Linked DNA regions of Homo sapiens. The protein of the gene in region 2 interacts with the protein of the main gene of each other region in a biochemical or structural test. Each region holds a gene or a part of one and is shown on either strand. Other genes may lie near its edges.

What was found.
Region 1: the proteins of CTTN (region 2) and SDC3 form a complex in vitro, tested with the Homo sapiens proteins (one study listed by BioGRID).
Region 3: of the proteins of CTTN (region 2) and FER, one has a biochemical effect on the other in vitro, tested with the Homo sapiens proteins (one study listed by BioGRID).
Region 4: of the proteins of CTTN (region 2) and PAK2, one has a biochemical effect on the other in vitro, tested with the Homo sapiens proteins (one study listed by IntAct).
Region 5: the proteins of CTTN (region 2) and ASAP1 are reported together in a solved structure, tested with the Homo sapiens proteins (one study listed by IntAct).
Region 6: the proteins of CTTN (region 2) and KCNA2 form a complex in vitro, tested with the Homo sapiens proteins (one study listed by BioGRID).

What each region holds. Positions count from the first base shown.
Region 1 is NC_000001.11:30,870,759-30,874,258, forward strand, and holds part of SDC3 (syndecan-3), read right to left. Parts: intron 2,620-3,500; coding exon 2,453-2,619; 3' UTR 1-2,452. UniProt on the Homo sapiens protein: Cell surface proteoglycan that may bear heparan sulfate. May have a role in the organization of cell shape by affecting the actin cytoskeleton, possibly by transferring signals from the cell surface in a sugar-dependent mechanism.
Region 2 is NC_000011.10:70,426,029-70,429,528, reverse strand, and holds part of CTTN (src substrate cortactin), read right to left. Parts: exon of another isoform or gene 3,442-3,500; intron 479-3,441; coding exon 330-478; intron 1-329.
Region 3 is NC_000005.10:109,191,897-109,194,618, reverse strand, and holds part of FER (tyrosine-protein kinase Fer), read right to left. Parts: 3' UTR 1-2,722. UniProt on the Homo sapiens protein: Tyrosine-protein kinase that acts downstream of cell surface receptors for growth factors and plays a role in the regulation of the actin cytoskeleton, microtubule assembly, lamellipodia formation, cell adhesion, cell migration and chemotaxis.
Region 4 is NC_000003.12:196,809,357-196,812,856, reverse strand, and holds part of PAK2 (serine/threonine-protein kinase PAK 2), read right to left. Parts: intron 2,268-3,500; coding exon 2,204-2,267; intron 639-2,203; coding exon 590-638; intron 119-589; coding exon 6-118; intron 1-5. UniProt on the Homo sapiens protein: Serine/threonine protein kinase that plays a role in a variety of different signaling pathways including cytoskeleton regulation, cell motility, cell cycle progression, apoptosis or proliferation.
Region 5 is NC_000008.11:130,115,175-130,118,674, forward strand, and holds part of ASAP1 (arf-GAP with SH3 domain, ANK repeat and PH domain-containing protein 1), read right to left. Parts: coding exon 3,315-3,500; intron 3,073-3,314; coding exon 2,987-3,072; intron 1,822-2,986; coding exon 1,706-1,821; intron 1,572-1,705; coding exon 1,504-1,571; intron 841-1,503; coding exon of another isoform or gene 658-840; exon of another isoform or gene 640-657; intron 562-639; coding exon 454-561; intron 1-453. UniProt on the Homo sapiens protein: Possesses phosphatidylinositol 4,5-bisphosphate-dependent GTPase-activating protein activity for ARF1 (ADP ribosylation factor 1) and ARF5 and a lesser activity towards ARF6.
Region 6 is NC_000001.11:110,594,283-110,597,782, forward strand, and holds part of KCNA2 (potassium voltage-gated channel subfamily A member 2), read right to left. Parts: 3' UTR 1-3,500. UniProt on the Homo sapiens protein: Voltage-gated potassium channel that mediates transmembrane potassium transport in excitable membranes, primarily in the brain and the central nervous system, but also in the cardiovascular system.

The DNA.
Region 1 (3,500 bases), on a different chromosome or scaffold from region 2:
CACCCCCACCATTGGCTCCAGCCCTACTGAGAAACTGCACCCACTGTTGGGTCTCCCACCTGGGGTCCAGCATCTTCTGGGGCTGGGGGCCCAAGCCCTTTTCTCCTCTATCCTCCCTGGTTTCTCAGCCTCGGCCTGCCCAGGCCGTCTCACCAGAGCTGTGCTCTCCAAGACAGCAGCACCCCAGGGAGCAGGGTAGGGAGGCTGAGCCTTGTGGTCTGTGGCCCCAGGACCCAGCCCTTCTGCTCCAAAGATGACTGAGGCCAACCCGCCCCCTCCAGATATCAGGGGCCCCCCATGCCCACTCTTCTAAGGCTGGGTCCACCTGGCTTCCTCACAAGCCTCTGGGCCCTGTGAAGGAGGGTTTTGGGACTGGAAGATGGAGCCCAGCCTGGAAAAGACAGGCTGTGGGACAGCCCCTGGAACCTCCCCCTCACTGCCTACACACCGCTACCCCTCATCCTGCAGAAATCTGCTGCCAGGGCATCTTGAAAAGGGCCCTGAAATAAAACCTGCCTTCCTGACTTGAATCTGGGATGTGGGTGAGGGGTGGGGGTGTGAGTGCCAGCCAATCGCAACTCACACCACATCCCTTTGGCTCCAAGAGGCCCCCTGCCAAGCACACCCTCCCCAAAAGATCTGTGACCCCACATTTAAAATACCGATGGAAATAGCCCTACTTGCTAGGTAACAAAGGAAGTAACCCCTCCCCCACTATCACCTGGTCTCATCCCTCAAACCCTGACCTCGGGGCCTGAGGGATCTGCAGGGGCTGCTTCCAGCCATGGCCCCTGAAGCTGCAGCCAGAATTGTTTGGCCAAATAGGTGAGGGGGTGTCCACAGGGAGGGCCTCTGGGCAGGTGGGCTGAGGTTGGCCTGCCAGGCAGAGGGCAGAGGGTGCGGAGGGCCCGCCCTCACAGGCACTTTGGAGACTTGTGTCCTGGGAGGCAGAGTCAGCCCCCTAGCTCAAAGCAGGAAGGGGACACAGGGAGATAAAGGAGCCCAACCACATGCCCCCTCCCTGCCCTGGGCCTTCCGTCCTGGGAGACCCAAGACCCCCCAACAACCTGGGGCCAAATTTCCTTCCTCAGCCTTAGAGGAGCCCCCAGGCTCCCAGCTAGTGGGGGTCTGGCCCCAAACCTCCCCCTCTGCCAGCTGCGGTGGGGAGGAAGCAGGTAGGGGTGAAGCCAGGCCCACCTGCATGCAATGCCCTAAAAGGGCTGTGGCCCCACACTTTTTCCGAGAAAGGCAAGGGCCTGCCTGTTTCCCTCCAGCATTGAGAGCAGGTCATGTGGAGTGAGACTGTGCATCCACATGGGATTGTGTCTGACACTGGCTGGGGTTGGCGGCTGCATGGTTGGTGTGGGCACCATGGCATGGGACTGAGTATGACGGGGCAACTTAGGGGGACCCAATATGGGCTGATTGTTCTGGCTCGATTCCACCCTCCCCAGTAAGCCTGAAAGCTGGAGACAATGTGTGTGGTGCCAGAGTGTGGGTGTATTTGGGGTAGGAGGAGGCCACACTGTCACTGTCATGTGACCATGACTAGTGACTTGCATTGCAGTACGTGTCTGGGGGTGTGTAAGTGATGCATGAGGATAAACATTCTTGGAAGGACGCGTGTGTTCTGTGATATGTCTTGATTGGCTGGGCGGTCAGGATTGCGTATGGTTTTGTCATTGCATGCTTTTGTCTTGTGTGTGACTGAGTGAAAATATGGTGATAGTGTGGGCAATGGTGTCTGTGCAGAGTCCCCTCATAGGAGGGACATCAGAGCAGCCCCTCCTCACCAGTGGCTGCCCCAGCACCCTCAGGAAGCTGTTTCTTGGGGGAAGATGCAGAAAGAAATGAAGTCTGGGTACATGTGTACTTGGCAGGCAAGAGGAGAGATTCAACAACCCCAGAGAGACCAGGACAAAACAGGCTGGTGACAAGGGACACCCTCTCACCCAGCTAGAGAGAGGCCCTGGGATACGAGCAAGAGGTTGCAGTGTCTAGATGATTTCAAGGGCTGTGTTTACCAAATGTTTGTCCTGGAAACCAGCCTGAGTGCCTCTCTGCCCCAAAAAGGAGATCTCAGTGAGCACTGTGGGTGCCAAGTCAGGGCTCAGGCTCATCTCAAGCCCCACCCTTTCTTCCACCACCAGCCAATCAGGAGCTTTCTTCCTCCCATCCATCTGACATGAGGTCCTGAAGCCCCAGACTGGTGGCAGGGATGAGGGGAACAAGAGATGAGCTCGTAAGGGCACAGTCTGGGGCAGATGGCAGCAGCCCCTCTTCCTCGGGGAAGATCTGTGTGAGGCTGGCAGCCTGGGCAGACCTTGGGAGAGAGGGCAGAGAAGAACTGGGGCCAGGTTCCAGGCCCAGTCCCAGGCTTGGGCTGGTGGGGCCAGGCTGGGGACTGGACAGCAGGGTGGTGTTGAGGCTGCAGGGAGGCACTGTGGCTCCACTAGGCATAGAACTCCTCCTGCTTGTCAGGCTTCTGGTATGTGACGCTCGCCTGCTTGGGTTCCTCCAGCGTGTAGCTGCCCTCATCCTTTTTCTTCATACGATAGATGAGCAGTGTGACCAAGAAGGCAGCAAAGAGGGCGCCCACCACCCCGCCCACAATCACAGCTGTGGAAGAAGAGGGCACAGGTCAAGGCCCAGAGGCAGGGTAGAACCAGGGCAAAGGGTCCTCAGGGGTGGGGGCCAGGGTGAGGAGAGGGCTGGGAGTCCCAGATCTGAGTTGGAGTGATGATGGAGTCAATACTACTACTACCAGCACTGGGTACCATCATAGGCCTTCACTGGCTGCATTCTAATCGCCCAACACACTAACTCACTGAACCCTCACACCAGCCCTATGAGGGAGGGGTCATCTGAGGGCTTCATCAAATTTAAAATGCCACCACTCATAAGATGCCCCAGTATTTTATAACTGCTAGGAAAGAAAAAGCTCTGCTAACTAAATATGACATACCCCAACTACAGAAGACTTAACATGTGAACAGATGTGCCTCTTAGAATTGATTAAGGGCAAAATGACTATCCCCATTCTACCGATGAAGAGAAGGAAGACTGGAGAGGTGAAGTACCTTGCCTTGAGTGCAAAGCCAGGATTTGAACCAGGAGTCCACAGACTCCCTAGATGCGGCCAGGGCAGGTCCACAGGGACTGGGGTCAAAAACTGGGGAAGGTCAAGCTGAAGGATGGGTCAGAGATTAGCATCTAGGAAGTAAGGTCCCAGGGGGTCAGCCAGTGTGGCCCAGGAAAGCAGGGATCAAAGTCAGAGTCCACAGAGGGGTCAGAGGACACTGAGGGAAGACCTAGAGATGGACATGAAGTCAGGGTTGGATATTGGGAAGGAGGAAAGTTGGGAGGAGCCAGAAGGCAGGTCCTGGGGGGTTGAGTTCTCAAGTTTCCTTCCTATCTGGCTCCTAGGAAACCACGCCCTGATCTCCTTTCTGGGTTCCTAGAGGCAAACTGAGGCCCAGCCAGCTGTCTCACTCTGGTAT
Region 2 (3,500 bases):
TGGACAGGAGCCCCGTGGAGGTGGAAGCCGACAAGACTCTGCCGTCAGCTCAGGGACAGAGGGCAGGGCAGGTTGGCGGGTCCTGGGGCTGGACCGGCAAGACCAGGATAGCGCTAGCCGGCTGCCTGGAGCATTGTGGCCAGAGACTCAGCCTATGTGTGGCTGCAAGTGACAAGTGCCTTAATGGAGAGCCTTAAAGGAGAGTTAAACATGCCTTCCAAGGAAAACCTGGCCAGGAGAGAATAAGCCCCGCCCAGGCCCCAGAGCTCCCAATCCCCTCGGCACAGGTCCCAGGGAGGGTGCGCTGCGGCCCACTCCTTGCCACTCACCTCCAGCTTCCTCCTGGCCTCTTCCTGCTCCTGCCGCTCCTTGGCCATCCGCTGGGCTCTCTCCGCCTCCGCCTTCCGCCTGTCCTCCTGCTCTTTCTCCTTAGCGAGGTTTTCAAAGTTAGCTCTGATGTTACTTGTTTTGCTGGTCACTATAGAGGAAGGAGGGAGGACGTGTGCCTTGAGCACAGCAAAAACACTGCTCCTGGACAACAGCCCCACCCACACAGAGTGACCTCCCCAGGAACCGGTCATCCCCCTAACCCCCAAGGAGGGAAAGGTTCTTGCAGCTGCCAGCTCAGCCCACTGGTCCGGAGCCAGCACTGGGCACCTGCCGCAGGGCACTGCGTACCTGGTGGGACTGGCAATCCCCCTAAGCCTGGCATCAGGAAGATCTCTAAATAAGACGGTATCTTCACCACCACACTCACCTTTTTAAATAAAAACAGCCAATTTCCCTTAAAGACATCTGTCCTTGATAAAGCAGTTAAGGTACTGATGTATACTGTAATTGACGTATACTGAGTATAGTAAATCTCAACCAGAGTATACATTTTTTTATATTGTGTGTGACAAAAATGGAAAAGAGGGCAGTGGCTCATGCCTGTAATCCCAGCACTTTGGGAGGTTGAGACGGGAAGACTGAGATCAGGAGTTTGAGACCAGCCTGGGAAAGACAGTGAGACCCCGTGTCTATTAAGAAAAAATGATAAAAATTTAAGTCAAAAGTGGGGAATATGGCCGGGCATGGTGGCTCACACCTGTAATTCCAGCACTTTGGGAGGCTAAGGTGGGCGGATCACGAGGTCAAGAGATCAAGACCATCCTGGCCAACATGGTGAAACCCTGTCTCTACTAAAAATAGAAAAATTAGCTGGGCTTGGTGGCAGGCACCTGTAATCCCAGCTACTCGGGAGGCTGAGGCAGGAGAATCGCTTGAACCTGGGAGGCAGGGGTTGCAGTGAGCCGAGATTGTGCCACTGCACTCCAGTCTCGCGACAGAGCGAGACTCTGTCTCAAAAAAAAAAAAAAAAAAAAAAAAAAAAAAAGTGGGAAGACACATGAGCCTTCCCTGCTGTGTCCGGGACTGTGGCGGTGGCTGTCTGTGTCTCAAGGACCATGAATAGAACCATGAGAGCTGCAAGTTGACTGTTTTCTCATGGAATAGCGTTTTTCCCTGAAATAACAACTGACAGTCCAACTATGGTTATGCAAAGCTGGGTATCTGGCAACAGTTTTCTCCCAAGTGAATGAACTAAGCCTATTGTGTCAAGAAAAATTACTGGAGTATTTGTTGCCAACGGGAAAATTCCAGCTTTCAAGTAAAAGACAGAATTTTGAAAAATGTGAGGCTGCCACATGAACATGCTGATTTCCACTCAGCTTCTGCAGATGAAATAGATGATGACAGCAAATGTGATTTTTTTTGGTATTGTGGAATGAGAAGTGTCCACAACTGGAAGACGAGCACAACTCAGAGACCCAGCATTTTCCAAATGACCAACACACAGTGCTGCCCAAGCACAGTGGGTAGCGAGTCCCTCACAGGGCCAGAGGAGCCGGCCTGCAGGACCACCACTGCCTGGCACGCTTGGGCGGCGTCGCAGAAGGACACCCACGCTGCCCTCAAGGTTACAAACACTCCTCCCTTTCCCAATCGCCTACCTAGGTGATTCCACATGTTCTTCCTAAACAACGTAACATCGATAGACTGCAGAGGCAGATGTGAGAGTGCAGCCATCTTCTATTAAAGAGATTTACAAAACAAAACAATGCCGGTCTTCTCACTAAGTGCTGGGATTACAGGAATGAGCCACTGTGCATGGCCAGTTATATTATTATTTTTATTTTTTGAGATGGAGTTTAGCTGTTGTCGCCCAGGCTGGAGTGCAGTGGCGCAATCAAGGCTCACTGCGACCTCTGCCTCCAGGTTCAAGCAATTCTCGTACCTCAGTCTTCTGAGTAGCTGGGATTACAGGCGTGGACCACCATGCCCAGCTACTTTTTGTATCTTTAGTAGAGACAGGGTTTCACCATGTTGGCCAGTCTGGTCTCAAACTCCTGACCTCAGGTGATCCACCCACCTCGGCCTCCCAGAGTGCTGGGATTACAGGTATGAGCCACCACACCCGGCCAAGGTTTATTCTTTTTAAGTGAACCAATTAATAACTTTCCAATGTCGCTCATGCCTGTAATCCCAGCACTTTGAGAGGCCGAGGCAGGTGGATCACTTGAGCTCAGGAATTCAAGACCAGCCTGGGCAACACAGTGAGACCTCATCTCTACTAAAGATAAAAAAATTTGGCCGGGCACAGTGGCTCATGCCTGTAATCCCAGCACTTTGGGAGGCCGAGGCGGGCAGATCATGAGGTCAGGAGATCGAGACCATCCTGGCTAACACGGTGAAACCCCGTCTCTACTAAAAAATAGCAACAACAACAAAAAAATTAGCCGGGCGTGGTGGCAGGCGCCTGTAGTCCCAGCTACTCCGGAGGCTTGAGGCAGGAGAATGCCGTGAACCCGGGATGGGAGGCGGAGCTTGCAGTGAGCCGAGTCCGCGCCACTGCACTCCAGCCTGGGCGACAAAGTGATACTCTGTCTCAAAAAAAAAAAAAATTTAACTGGGCAGGGGGCATGCGCTTATAGTTCCAGCTACTCCAGAGGCTGAGGCAAGAGGACTGCTTGAGCCCAGGAGACTGAGGCAGCAGTCCTGCCTGGATGACACAGCAAGACCCGGTCTCAAAATAAATAAATAAATAAACCATTCCTCTCTCTCTTTTTTTTTTTTTTTTGAGACGGAGTCTCGCTCTGTCATCCAGGCTGGAGTGCAGTGGCGCAAACTCCGCTCACTGCAAGCTCCGCCTCCTGGGTTCACGCCATTCTCCTGTCTCAGCCTCCCGAGTAGCTGGGACTACAGGCGCCCGCCACCATGCCTGGCTAATTTTGTTTTTGTATTTTTAGTAGAGACGGGGTTTCATCGTGTTAGCCAGGATGGTCTCGATCTCCTGACCTCGTGATCCGCCCGTCTTGGCCTCCCAAAGTGCTGGGATTACAGGCATGAGCCACTGTGCCGGGCCACATTCCTCTAATTTCTAATATAGTCAATGTCATCAAATACATCAACATCTTGGGGGTTCTCACGAGTGGTCAAAGTGTCAAAGCGTCCTGGGCCCT
Region 3 (2,722 bases), on a different chromosome or scaffold from region 2:
TTACAGTTTTTGCAAGGGTGTTCTAACTGATGACAGTGGGGTAAAGTGGGATTTCTATTGTCTTCTTTGGTTACAATTTGAATCTGGCTTCTTACTATGTCATTTTAGAATCTGCTTTGGATACTATTTACAACGTGCTTATTCTGATTCTTAGCAAATAGGAAAATAGGTGTGGTGTTTGGCTTTTCAGGAAGAATACTGCTTTGAGGAACTGCAGAGTACAGGTATTTTCATGCAATGTGCTCTGGGGTCTGTATTTCTAGGTAGAATGACTTATTTTGAACTTAAGGCTTCATATTTGCTGCCCTCTTTTCTGAAGCTATGAAAAAACTCCTTAACATTACACAATTGAAATACTTTCAGACATTTGCTGCCAAGAGGAGTGTGAAGAAAACAACAAAAGGTATTGGCAATAGAACAGTGGAATGGAAGAACTGAGTATGTCCAGGAGTTTAAGATAAAGCAATTATTGCTAGTGTTTACACATTTCTTTAGTGGGTAGAGGAGGCCACCTGATCAGCTTACTTGGTCAAGTCAATAGGCTGCCTCCCAGGATACCTCCCAGGATACCTCTACTCACAGAAATCTTGCTGCGTTAGGAAAATCTCTCAAGAGCTTCTACTGATAGTGTTAGTCATCTAACAAGTGTGACCTGATCATCCTGTCTCCACATCTAGGACTCCAACCAGGTCTTTGAATTCTAACCTGCATCCATCATGGGGCTTATCACATACTGAGTGTGTAGCTGGCCTTGTTAAGTAGGTGCCTGGGAGTTCCTTAGAAGGCTAGGGGCCCCCAAGTACCTGAGGAGAAACTTTGATTGAAACCAATTACAACATTATTCAATATAAGCTGATGATAAAGGCTTTACTATTTTGGTAAAGCAAAATCTTGAAAAACTAAAGATGAGAAAAGGAAATAGTAATCAGAAGTCAAATACTGGAAAAACTAGCACCTGGTAGTATTCTCTGCACCTCATGTGGCAGATGTTCAAGAAAAACTTTCTGAATGAATACAGCTGAGCGAAAACATAACATTCCACTTCCAGCATCAACACTGTCACTTAGAACAGTTCATTATTTTGTAGAACACTTGCATCTTGCTGGCCTCAGTAATATTTGAGAAGATAGTTAGAAATTCAGGATTTGTATCTCTTAGAGTGAATTCCAAATATTCATTTGTTTTGAGGTTTTTACAAATTTGCTGACAAGTGGGAAGCTAAATCTGTCTTCGTGTCACAAACCTGAAAGACTTTTTCTATATTAAAATTAAAAACAGGAGGTTCACAGCAATTTTCCTGAATGCTGGCTATCCTAGACATATGTGTGCCATTACTCAGCTTGCTACTGCTTAGGGAGAGGGCTGAACCACCGTTGTGTCTGAGGCCTCACAGATAAACAGAGCAAGGGTAATTCTGATTAAATAATGGTTACCTCCTGAGATTATAGGGAGCGTAGGTAAAAATTAAACCAATGTCCAATTCAATGCCCTTTAAAAAAGTGTTGTAGAGACTTAAGAGGCACGCACTGTTTAAGGACACACAGCAGGAAGCTCCTCAAACCCTTTGTGAGGGTTAGTTTCCTTTATTGTTATTGCATTTATTGTTGGCTATGGGTCATTTTACATTGGTGCTTTGTTACTGCCCTTCATTTCCTTTCAACCTTCCTTTCTGGATGTCTCTTTCTTTTTGTGTCTTACCTTAGGCACCCTGACTAAGCTTTAGGATTTCTAGATTCCTTTCCCTCAAATGTTATTGAAGACAAGGAACATTGCTACTTGTATTCTTCCATTTCTCTGTTGAATACTATGTTTCCCCACAGTAGCTCTCATCATAGTAAGCTCCCTCTGTGGGTAACTCTAGGAGCCATTTAGTCAACGTTAGTCCAAAGGTGAAATAGGGCGGATCTAAGTGTAGTCCCATTTAGGAGACTTTAGCCCAGGTTAAGCCTCACTGTAACCAAAGATTTCTAATAACGTGTGGATAATCAGTGATCTTAGCTTAAGAAATATTAAATATAACCAATGCAAATGTAAAGAAGCTTTGGGTAGTGTCTTTGAAAAACTGGAATACATATGTCCAAATGCATTAGTTGGGAAATAATGAATATAAGCATTTCCCAGCACACAATCATCTCTGAGCTGGGAATATAACAGTGCTCCTAACACAAGGAGAGGTATTTGGTTTACTCTTTGCTAAGGCCCACACACTGGAGATGACTGCTTTTGCTTTAGTTCTGCTGATCTTTTTTATTTTCCATAGGACAGGATCTGGCCTTGTAGCATGTTCTCCTCAGGCTTCCTAATGACACTGTCCAAATCTTTGTTTCACTTTAATTTTTCCACACTCTGTGTGGGGGTGCATCATCCTGCCTTGGAATAACTGGTTCCTCCCTCTTTTGCATTTGAATCTGCTGCCTCAGCACCTTATTAAATATACTGAAGCCTATGCTCATTACTTCTATGCAGTTTAAAGTGACTAAGAATCTAGCACACCAGGATTTTTCTGCCACCCAAGAATCTCAGTCCTTATTAAGTGGCTAAGTGATTCCTAATGCCTACACTAAAAGTTCAGAATTTAATTTCTGAATCGGTATGAGGCAGGAGGATGGCTTTTAATGGGGTAGTATTTCATTAAATTGAATTATGGCTAAGGTATAGTTTATACACCTTCTGTAGGACAGCATTTTTTTTAAAGGGGAATTTTTGGGACTCTAAGAGTGTA
Region 4 (3,500 bases), on a different chromosome or scaffold from region 2:
CTTACCTGTCCAAAAAGTTAACGATGTTGGGATTTTTCAATTCTTTCATCACCAGAATCTCGTTAATGATCAGTTCCTTCTTTGGCTGTTTCTGTAAATTAATTTGTTTGATAGCAACCTATAATGAAAACAGGATTGAAAAAAACCAGGTTTAGGAATTCTCTTAGAAAATTACAAACCCCAAGCAGTTGATAACTCACGGTACGTGTACTGTATTACACCATGCTATTACTCCCAGGTGGCACCTTGCCTTGCACACTGCCTGTGCACAATGCTTTGTAATGTTTAGAACCTAGTTTTAGATTTATCTTGAAGTTGATTAATACACCCACAGTCAGTCCAATACTAAGAATTAATCCTCTTTTCACTTCAAGCTGAGGAAACAATTTTTAAGTATTTGCTTATTTATGACATTGAACTCATAAGTCCTTCCCCGCCTTACTGACAGAAGTGCTATAAACATACGTAGAGCGATTCTTACAACGGGCTCAACTTAAAAGAGGTTCCTATTGCTTCTTCCCAGCTTCATCTAGTTTCCACCTATATGACAAAATAATGGTAACACCCAGGATTACAACAAAGTAACTACCTCCTGTCCCAGTGCAACGTCAGTAGCAGTGAAAACTGTACCAGAAGCCCTAGAGGGAGAAAACACACAACCAGATTTAAGGTTGATAAATCACTAGCATTTGCAATATCCAAAGACTTTACACTTCAAGCAATTGAAAAAGAATTAAAGAACAGGATGACCTAACGTGCTTAAAAGGAGTAAAAGCAAAAACCTGAGGAAAGGGGGTGGGGGAAGAAAGAGACAATCCTTACGGCAAAACTTATGTGTGAAATATTTCAGACCTACAAAAATGTAGGGAAAAAAGAGCAGGAAAAAAATTATATAACATATACTTAAGGATACACTTCCCTGATTAAGATACAAATAACTGTAAATAATTTGAAGATTCCCATAAGCCCTTTCCGACAGCAGTCTCCTTCCTCCCAAAGGTGATCTGTATTTGGTGTTTATCCTGTATTTGGTGTTCATCATTTTCATGCATTTCTCCATACTTTTAACTACAAAGGACGCAGATATGTATCCCTATAAAATATACTTTGTCTAATTTTTAAACGTCATATAGTTTCATTTCACATATTATTCTGCAACTTGCTTTTGTGACTCAACACTGGATTTGTGATGGTCATCCATATGGATAGGTATTGCTTGTTCATTCATGCTCAAAAATAGTAAGATAATCTTCAATTCTCTTTCATAAAACCAGTGCTGCAATTGAATTTAGCTGTTAGGAAGAAATTCAGGCCTGGTGCAGTGGCTCACACCTGTAATCCCAACACTTTGGGAGGCTGAGGCAGAAGAATCGTTTGAACCCGGGAGGCAGAGGTTGCAGTGAGCTGAGATTATGTCACTGCACTCCAGCCTGAGTGACAGACTCCGCCAAAAAAAAAAAAAAAAAAAAAGGGAAGGAAGGAAGAGAAGGAAGGGAAGGGAGGGAAGGAAGGGAGGGAAGGGAGGGAAGGGAAGGAAGGAAAGGAAGGGAAGGAAGGGAGGGAGGGAAGGGAGGGAAGGGAGGGAAGGGAAGGAAGGGAGGGAGGGGAGGGAGGGAAGGAAGGGAAGGGAAGGGAGGGAGGGAAGGGAAGGAAGGGAGGAAGGAATTCATATGGAAGTTTTCAAAAATGGCTTAAGCCCTCACTCTAAATTCACAGAATGCTTTCCAGAGTTTAATAACATTAAAAATTTAGGTGTTTATTTGCTTCCAAGCAACAGAAAAAAGGAGTTTAGTTAGTATACTTTAAAAATACAAATTACACAACAAAATCAGAAGATCAGTAGACTCAAAAGTCAATACACAATGACATGATTTAAATGCATTTTTTATTGCTTATAGTCATGCAGTAAATATTCTTATTGTCTTTTAAATATATTTTATGGGCAATTCTTCCCTCTAATTATCACAGATGGGAAATGACACTTAAGAAAAAATAATGATACACAGTCATTGCTAACAACTAGTACAGTTTTTTAACAGCATCTACAAATAACTGCATTATTTATTTACACAAATCCCCCAAGGGTACCACTCACAGAATACTATATAAGTACTTGATGTCGGCAGGCAAAATAAACATCATGCTATAAAGCCAGGAAATACTGAATACTGAATATTATCGTAATACAGTCACAAATACTTACCCTTGTCCAATTTTTTCATATCTTGTATATTTTTTCTTAGGGTCACCTATGCTCACGATAGTTCCTAGAATAAACAAAAAGCTGGAAGCTCAGTCAAGCATTTTAAGTGTAAATTGATTGTGATATTATTATTCCTTTTAATGAACTCCACTGTTTTTATAAGTGATTTTCAAACATAATACTAAGTTCCAAAAATAACAGGTTTCAAACACAAAACACTAAAGAAACTTAAATACATAATAAAAGTTTAAAAGTATCAGAAACAAGACACATTAAAAGTTTAAAAGTAACAGAAACAAGAAGACACATTATTTCCATTAGGTTAGACCTCCTAACTAATCATTTGCTCAATAATGGTCACATTTTGAAAAGACTGTACCAGTTTGTCAGAGATTAATTAGGTTCTCAGATGTTCAGCTTTAGAATCAGGTAATCTCAAGAAAATAGACATATTTGAATATAAAATAGATATATTTGAATATAGAAATAGATATATTTGAATATATCTATTAATAGGTAAGTTTGAGACTACTTAGTATTATAAATAATAAAGGCTATCTAAACCCTAAATGGTCTTTCTGACTCTTCCAGTATACATTTCATCTTTCAATATATTTAGAAAACCACTTATTACCATAAAAATTACTATGCTCTGACATAAACTAATCATATGTTTGTTTTAGGAAAGTTCAAAGTCACAAGAAAGAGGTTTTAAAATTAGGAAGTTGGACATAAAATCCTAACTTATATTCTTATTACTAGTAAGAAAAACCACATTAAACTTTCACTTGCTCAAGGTAAAAAAGGACAGGACCATATCAAGGAAACTGACATAAATAGTTTTATGTAGGTACCCAACCTCAAGTCAACAAGCAAAGAAACAGGATCAATAATAAGAGGCTAAGAACAAAAAGATACCAAAAAGACTGGGGATGTGACAGCTAAAGGTCACAACTAAATGATGACAATTAGGATTCTAGTTAATTTTTTTTTTTTTTTTAAGTAGCAGCTCTCCTAAAATAATTCTTATATGCTCATAGAGTAACAGAGCAGGCCAGGTGTGGTGACTCATGCCTGAGGTCAGGAGTTTGAGACCAGCCCAGCCAACATGGTGAAACCCCATCTCTACTAAAACTACAAAAATTAGCGGGGTGTGGTGGCGCACACCTGTAGCCCCAGCTACTCGGGAGGCTGAGGCAGAAGAAACGCTTGAACTGGAGAGGCAGAGATTGCAGTGAGCCACGCCACTGCACTCCAGCCTGGGTGACAGAGCGAGACTCTGTCTCAAAAAAAAAAA
Region 5 (3,500 bases), on a different chromosome or scaffold from region 2:
TTTCGAGTCAAGGGAACTACCCTTCATGATGTGGGTGTGCCTCACCTAATCAGCCAAAGAAAGGCCTTAAAAAGACTGAGGTCCCCCAAAGGGTAAGGAATGCTGCCTCCAGACTGTCTTTAGCCTGAAGACTGCAACATTAACTCCTGCTGGGATTTCCAGCCTGCTGGCCTGCCCTGTGCATTTTGAACTTGACAGCTCCTTCAATCATGTGAGCCAATTCCTTAAAAAAAATTTCTCTGTCTCTCTCCCTATCCTGTTGGCTCTGTTTCTCTGGACAACCTTAATATAGCTGTTAAATGGTGCCCAATAAGGACTGAACAACATAAATGGCCCTGATACATTGGATCATAAAACCACAATCAATCAATCTCACCAAAAATGGATCTTGTCTACACAGACTAGAAAAGTTGGGGTAGTTGTTGAGAATTCGAGGACATAATTTACACTCACTTTGTCATCCAGATCATCATCGCTCTCATCTATCTCCTCCTGTCGAAGATTCCACTCATATTCTACGTGGACGTGTGGATTGAACTTTCCAGATTTAGCCTGGGAAAGCTGGAAGGAACAGCAAATGTGCACCATTTTAATTTAAATGCTGAAACATCCCAATATTATACAAACACTGAGCAAATCCCACCTTATTCCTAGTTTTCAATGAATCATCTGTAGGTGTACTATAGGCAACACTCTGCTTAGACAAGCTGCACTGCTATGTGACAGGCTCAAGAAGAAATGCAAACAATTGCAGGCAGAGCCTTCTTTATTTTGATGACTTGTCTCCAAAATTAAAAGCTTTCTTCTTATTAAATGGGCCTCAAACTTGCAAATTCCTGGCTGAAAGGCAAAACGAGTCTTTGAAGTTTAAGACGTAGGCTTTTAAGGTCCCAGTCCAATCTGTGGCCCCATTTTCTCATTCATAAAATGGGAGCAGGGATAATTGTCTCAAAGGATTCTTTTAAGAATAAAAAGGCCCAACTGGTGGGCCTGGAACCTGGCACTTAGCAGAAACTCAAGAGAATCACACTAATGTGAAGGCCCTGACTTGCTAAGCAAGAACTAGTAGGGTCAAAAAAGGTGAATGTGCACAGGAAGGGGAGGGGCTGGGAGAACAGTGTGTTAACATTTTGAAGACCACTACTCTCTGAGCTTTACTTGCCCAATTTTTGGAGCAGCTTCTCAAATAATTCTTTACTATTAAGCTGCAGAGAAAGTCTAATGGTCTGGGAAATAAAAAGCATGACCTCAATGCACAAGTCGATCTGGTAATAATACTTGTGTAATGCCTTTCACCTCCTTTAACTGCATTCCAAAAACATGTGGATGACAAATTTATCATTTTACCACTTTTTCTAATGTAGCACATTGCTCATCTGATTTTCTTTAGCAAGTGTTAAAAAAAAATGAATCTGCATTTTTAATATTCAATTCTAGCTTCTCAGAATGACACTTTTAAGGCAGCCAATGTCTAATAAATCTCCCACGTCCATTTTTGCTTACCAGATCTTCACACTGGGTAGCTTTTAGTCTCTTTGCTATGTCTAGGGCAGTTTCTCCAGCCTGGTTAACTGAAATAGGAAAAAAATTAATTTGCATAATTATCTAGGAAACACCTTAAGAAGGCAAGGAACAATAATCAAATTACAATGTACCATGCAACACACGCTTACTACAGTCATGAAGACACTAGACACACTCTTACCTATATCCACAGTGGGCTTGCTCCTGAGCAAAAGCTTCAAACACTCAGGTTTACTGTACATACTACAGTAGTGTAGAACTGTGTTTCCCAGGGCCGTCTGCTTATCCAGGTTCCCACTGAAAAATTAGATGATGATTAGAAAAAAATGACTTACTTTATAACTTAAAACTATAGATTAGCCACTTATTTTTGTGCTGACAACTGAGTCAAATTTGAGACCTAATTATTATAATAGAGAAAATTATGATGTTTCTAACCTAGATTTATAAGCAATACAGTGATAACAGGCAGTATTTATTTAGAGTGCCAGGTCCTATGGGACAGACACTGTTTCTTAACATTTACATGTATTAGTTCATTGAATCTTTACAACTATATGATGGGGTAAATACTAATAATAACCGCTTTTACAGATAAAAAACCCTGAAGCGCAGAGAGGCTGAAGTGCTTGCTTTCAAGATTTTCAAGATAGGGATGGTGAAGCAGGGATATTTGAACACAGGTAATCTATCTCTGGAGCCAATGTTTTGAGCCACTATGCTATATTGTCTCTGAGGAAGAAACCTGGACTTTTATACAATTTGGCTTGTGTCTATGTACCATTTTTCCTCTATGGGTTCAAATCCCCTCACTATTTTGATCTTCTTCTTTAGATGAGCTCTAGTTCCTCCTCATCATCTGTTGCTTACAGAACAGATAAAGAGAATAAAGAATCCAGCAAGTCCAAACTTCCTATATTCACTCTTATACTTCCATCAGTATATCCCAAACTTGAATGAGCTATTGATCCAGCCACACACACTGCTGCTGTCTTATATTAAATTTAGGAACAATGAAAACTCACAAATATGGTTGACCTGTGCTGTTAAGTCTTCTCTCTTTTAACCTCTCCTAACGGTTAGCAAATGTGTCCAATCTGTGCAGCAGATTTTTGGATACAGACATAATTTTACATTTATAAAGGCCAAGAGATGGCAAACTACAGCCTGTAGGCCATATCTGGTTCACTGTCTGTTTTTATAAACAAAATAATAAAGTTTCATTGGAATACAGCCACACTTGCTTGTTTACACATTGTCAGTGGCTGCTTTCACACTACCATGGCAGAAGTGAATAGCTCTGACAGAGAGACTTCATGCCTGCAAAGCCAAAAATAATTTTTATATCTAGCATGACACAGAAAAAGCTTGCCAATTCCCGATCTAGGCCACTGATAGGACTGGTTTGTGTTAATTTATAAGGCATATTCAGGTAATTCAACAGAGAAAACAAAAACGATACCAGTTTTGTACAAGGAAGTCAACCAAATGGAGAGATGTCTGATCTGCAGTTCGGACGGCAAGGTGAAGGGCTGTCTCCCCAAGCTCCTAAAAAGGGAAAGAAAAGTATAAGTAAGTCAATAATATGCTCTGCCAAGGGAGGCTTCATATATATCAGTTGCCCCCAAGTAATTATAAGGAGCACACCTCTTCACTCTCATATTCTCTTGATTTAGACATGGCCACCCAATGTATAAGAATCTCATTATATGGTATAATGTTAAAATAAGTCACCTTTTAAACTGATTTTCCACATTACTTTTTATCCAATGATTTTAGTGAGGCCTTACCTGCCCAGGTTCCAGCAGTGGTTCCATTAGCTCTACCCCTTCTGCATAGACTTGAATTAGTGCAAGTAAATCCCTGGATTTGATGGCCTCAAGCAATTCATTTAGTTTAGCTGATGAAGTTGAACAGGTCTTCCTTGAAAACCTATGATCTACATACTTTGCAGTGATATATTCTTTTCGTACAGT
Region 6 (3,500 bases), on a different chromosome or scaffold from region 2:
CTCTCTCTCTCTATATATATATATACATATATATATATATGTGTGTGTATATATATATACACACACATCACACACAATATAAAGTCTCCAGAGGCAGCCTATATAAGCACATAAGCACACAGGTCTGGAAAAGGAAATAGCATCCTCCACTCATGAGCTTTACAGCTATGTCCCTGATGAAAACTAGAGAATCTTCCTTGATTGCTGGCACCATTAATCGCAACTGTTCCAAGATTATCCTTAGTGGAGAGAGGGGTGCAGGGATGCAGAAAACCAGGAAGAGGCCAATTTGGCTGGGGTATTGTTTGCTCAGCAGGCTAGAGCTTGATCATGGGACTTTCCAGCTTCCTGGGGCCCTTCAAATGAAGGAACCATCCAAGCACGACAACAAAAGGAAACTGGGTCGCTGGATCCCACGTGAAGGCAGAACTGGGGCAAGCACAGAGCATGTTCAAACCCTCAGGAGCTGAGACTCACCCCCGCCAAAGCCAGCCAGGCCTCTCTTCTTGCTTTTCTATCCCATTTCTTAGCCTGGAGCTGATGTGCTCCTTTCCAGCCCCACCTGGCAGGTCAAAGTCCTTGCCCTACACTTCATAGGCTAAAAAGGCAGTAATGTTAGCAGCTGACATGGAAATTGTTTGGTAGCAAAGTGCGCCCCTGAATATTCTCTTCCTCCCAGCTCCTCCTATTGCTTTCTCTAGCAGCCCAGAGCATTTATTCACTCATACAAACAAGGCATTCGGTGTCTAGGGAATCATTTTCAAGGAGAAGCAGGGCTTAGAGGCCTCTCACAGAGACTCAGAAAGACACCAGACTGAGTCCTCTGGATAGCTACCAAGGGTCCTAGCACACAGCCACATCTACACTGCCCTCAATGATCTAGATGTTGCAGTAGCTGTCCACATTATTACATAATCATGCCCTGTGCATCCATCAGTGGAATGATGCAGGGAGTTCTCAGCTGCAAACTCATCTGGAACATATTAGACTATTTTAGGAGTGCAGAGGAGCACAGAAAGTTATATCCATTTCCATGCTGAGGTTCATGAAGTACAAGAAGTAGCCATCCAGACAGGCCACCTCAACTGCCTCAGTGCACCAGCTGGTCATGTCAAGTCTGGGTTATGGGCTTCTGCTGCCTGATCACAACTAACATAGCCAGACTGGAGGGCTTCTGTGGGTGTGGGGAGATGGCAGACACCCCTGCACCACTTCAATTGCTCCAGATACAGTGAAAAATCCCTCCCACTCCCATCTAGGTAGAAAGCAACAGTCAAATGCAAGAGGTGAGGCTGAGAGAAACTGTCTTCCATGGATCTAACACACTAGCAGGCAAGAGGGAGAATGAGAGCAGGTTTTAGCTTGCATCCAGCTGTTTCTTGAGTGATGTGTACAGCTTACCCCCAAAGAGGCAACTGAATTTCAGCTGCTCTAATACCCACACCCTCAACTTAGGTTTAGTCATAATAAAAAACAGAATGGATTTGTTAGTTCCATTGATTGCCACAAACCTCACCTTCTGTGTGGCAGAGATGTGCTTTAGTTCTTCATTGGAATGTTACTTTCAGATCTCACAAACCTCAAACCTAGGGCACCACCAATGACAAAGAGAATGCTAAATAGATAAATCCTTTGCCAGGTCTTCAAGCTTTCCACTCCCCTCGAGTACAAAGTTTGGAATAACTTTTCTGATCCTCAGTGATGAGGTTATAGCCAACCAGGGCAGACAGAAGAAAGGCTAAAGCACCTGGCTGTTAGATCAGACTTCCCTTTTATCCCTGAGTCAGGCAGCCACCTGGGAGGGAAAGGAAAGAGGTGATCCTGTAGCCTGTTCTTTTTTTATGAAAGATCTGCCTTCTAGAGAGGTCCCTAAGCAGAAAAAAAAAGAGTAGAACTGGAGAGGTGAAAAGAATGCAAAGGAGGTCATTCAAAAAATGCACATAAATGCAGTTTATTCCTTGGATTGCCAAATTTATTCCACATAAGTGAAACTAAGGAGATTGGTCAATGTATAATTCTATAATTTAAAAATAGTATACATATATACATATACTATATATATATATATACACACATAAATATATGTATATATGGAAAACCTCTAAAAACTCAGGACCAATTAACCAAAACCTCGATTGACAAGAATTATGTTTTCTTACTATCCTTTCAGTAGAAAGAGGCAAATGACAGCAAGGGCTCCGATGAGCCAGGATGTGCCCCAGTGGCCCATTTCCAGGCCTGTCTTGTAGCCAGCAGCCATTCAGCCTGTCTCTTTGGTCTTCTCTACCTATGTCCACTACTGTACAATAAGCATTGAGGTTTACAATGTTGACCCTGAGCAAGGCAAGGTCCCTGTTATCTTCAAACACTCTACTTAACTAAGGCAGGAAAGTTATGCTAACCTACTTAGGAAATATTTTTCTCAATAACAAAGGTTGAACCAGACATGCTTTCCCATTCCCACTCAAATAACCAAAATTGCAAAGCAATCAGGATGTTCCTGTCCCTGAGGTTTCCCCATCAGTTAACTGAGGTTTTGCTGTACATATGTGTATAGAGCAAGGTAGATCAAAAAAGGATGGAATGGGACCCTGGGGTTGCCAGCCTTCCCTGATTGTCCAGTCTGAACATTTAAGCTCACAGATGTTAGGAAAGGGGACTCTTCTGAAGCCCCTGGCTATGTGTGCAAATATTTGTGCAGCTGCACACTCTAGCGGGTGGTAGAGTCTTTATTTCACTAATGTCATGCCCTAACCACCCAAACTTCTATCCCTGTAGACTTCTACTGAAACCCACAAGAACCTGCTTCCTTCTGCAGCTCTCACGGAGTCCCTTTGGTTGAGCAAGTCAGCTTATTTTGAAAGAGAGTCAGAGGGCAATTCCCAAATCTGCCCAGGCTACTGATCCCAAGTGCAAACCTCCAGGCCACATTCCCTCAGCATCCGTCTCCCTGGGGAAGGGAGAAGGGGAAGCAAAAGGATCAAGTAATGGCTTTTAGTGCATGGAAATGATCTTCTGTAATGGCTCAGGATGCTTTATTCTTATCTATTGGGAAGTGCTTTCGTGTAGGCTTCCATTACATCTGCCAGACTGAGGGAAAGTCAACAAAATGGGCTGAAAAGGTCACACAAACTTAGGATTTTCATGCCTAGAGGTTGTAAGGATGCTGTATGACAGCAGGCAGAAATGGGGAGACAGAGGGAGAGGGGACAGAGACACACATGGAGACAGAGAGGTGCACACAGGAAGGAGACAAAGTGACAAAGCCCTCTCACAGGCCTTCCTTGTGCATACACTGCATCTTAGCATATGTGTCCATTCCAGAAGGAGGTCAGATCTCAAGAGGACAGGAGTCATGTGAACACGTGGGAAGAAGAAGAAACTACAGAGACTGTGAATGAGCCCCCAGAAGTCAAGGGCATTATCTGATAATCCAGGTACTATCTATCACTTTTCAGTCCTGAGAGCAAGATTTTGAAAGAGCTATTGCTAAAGAAAAC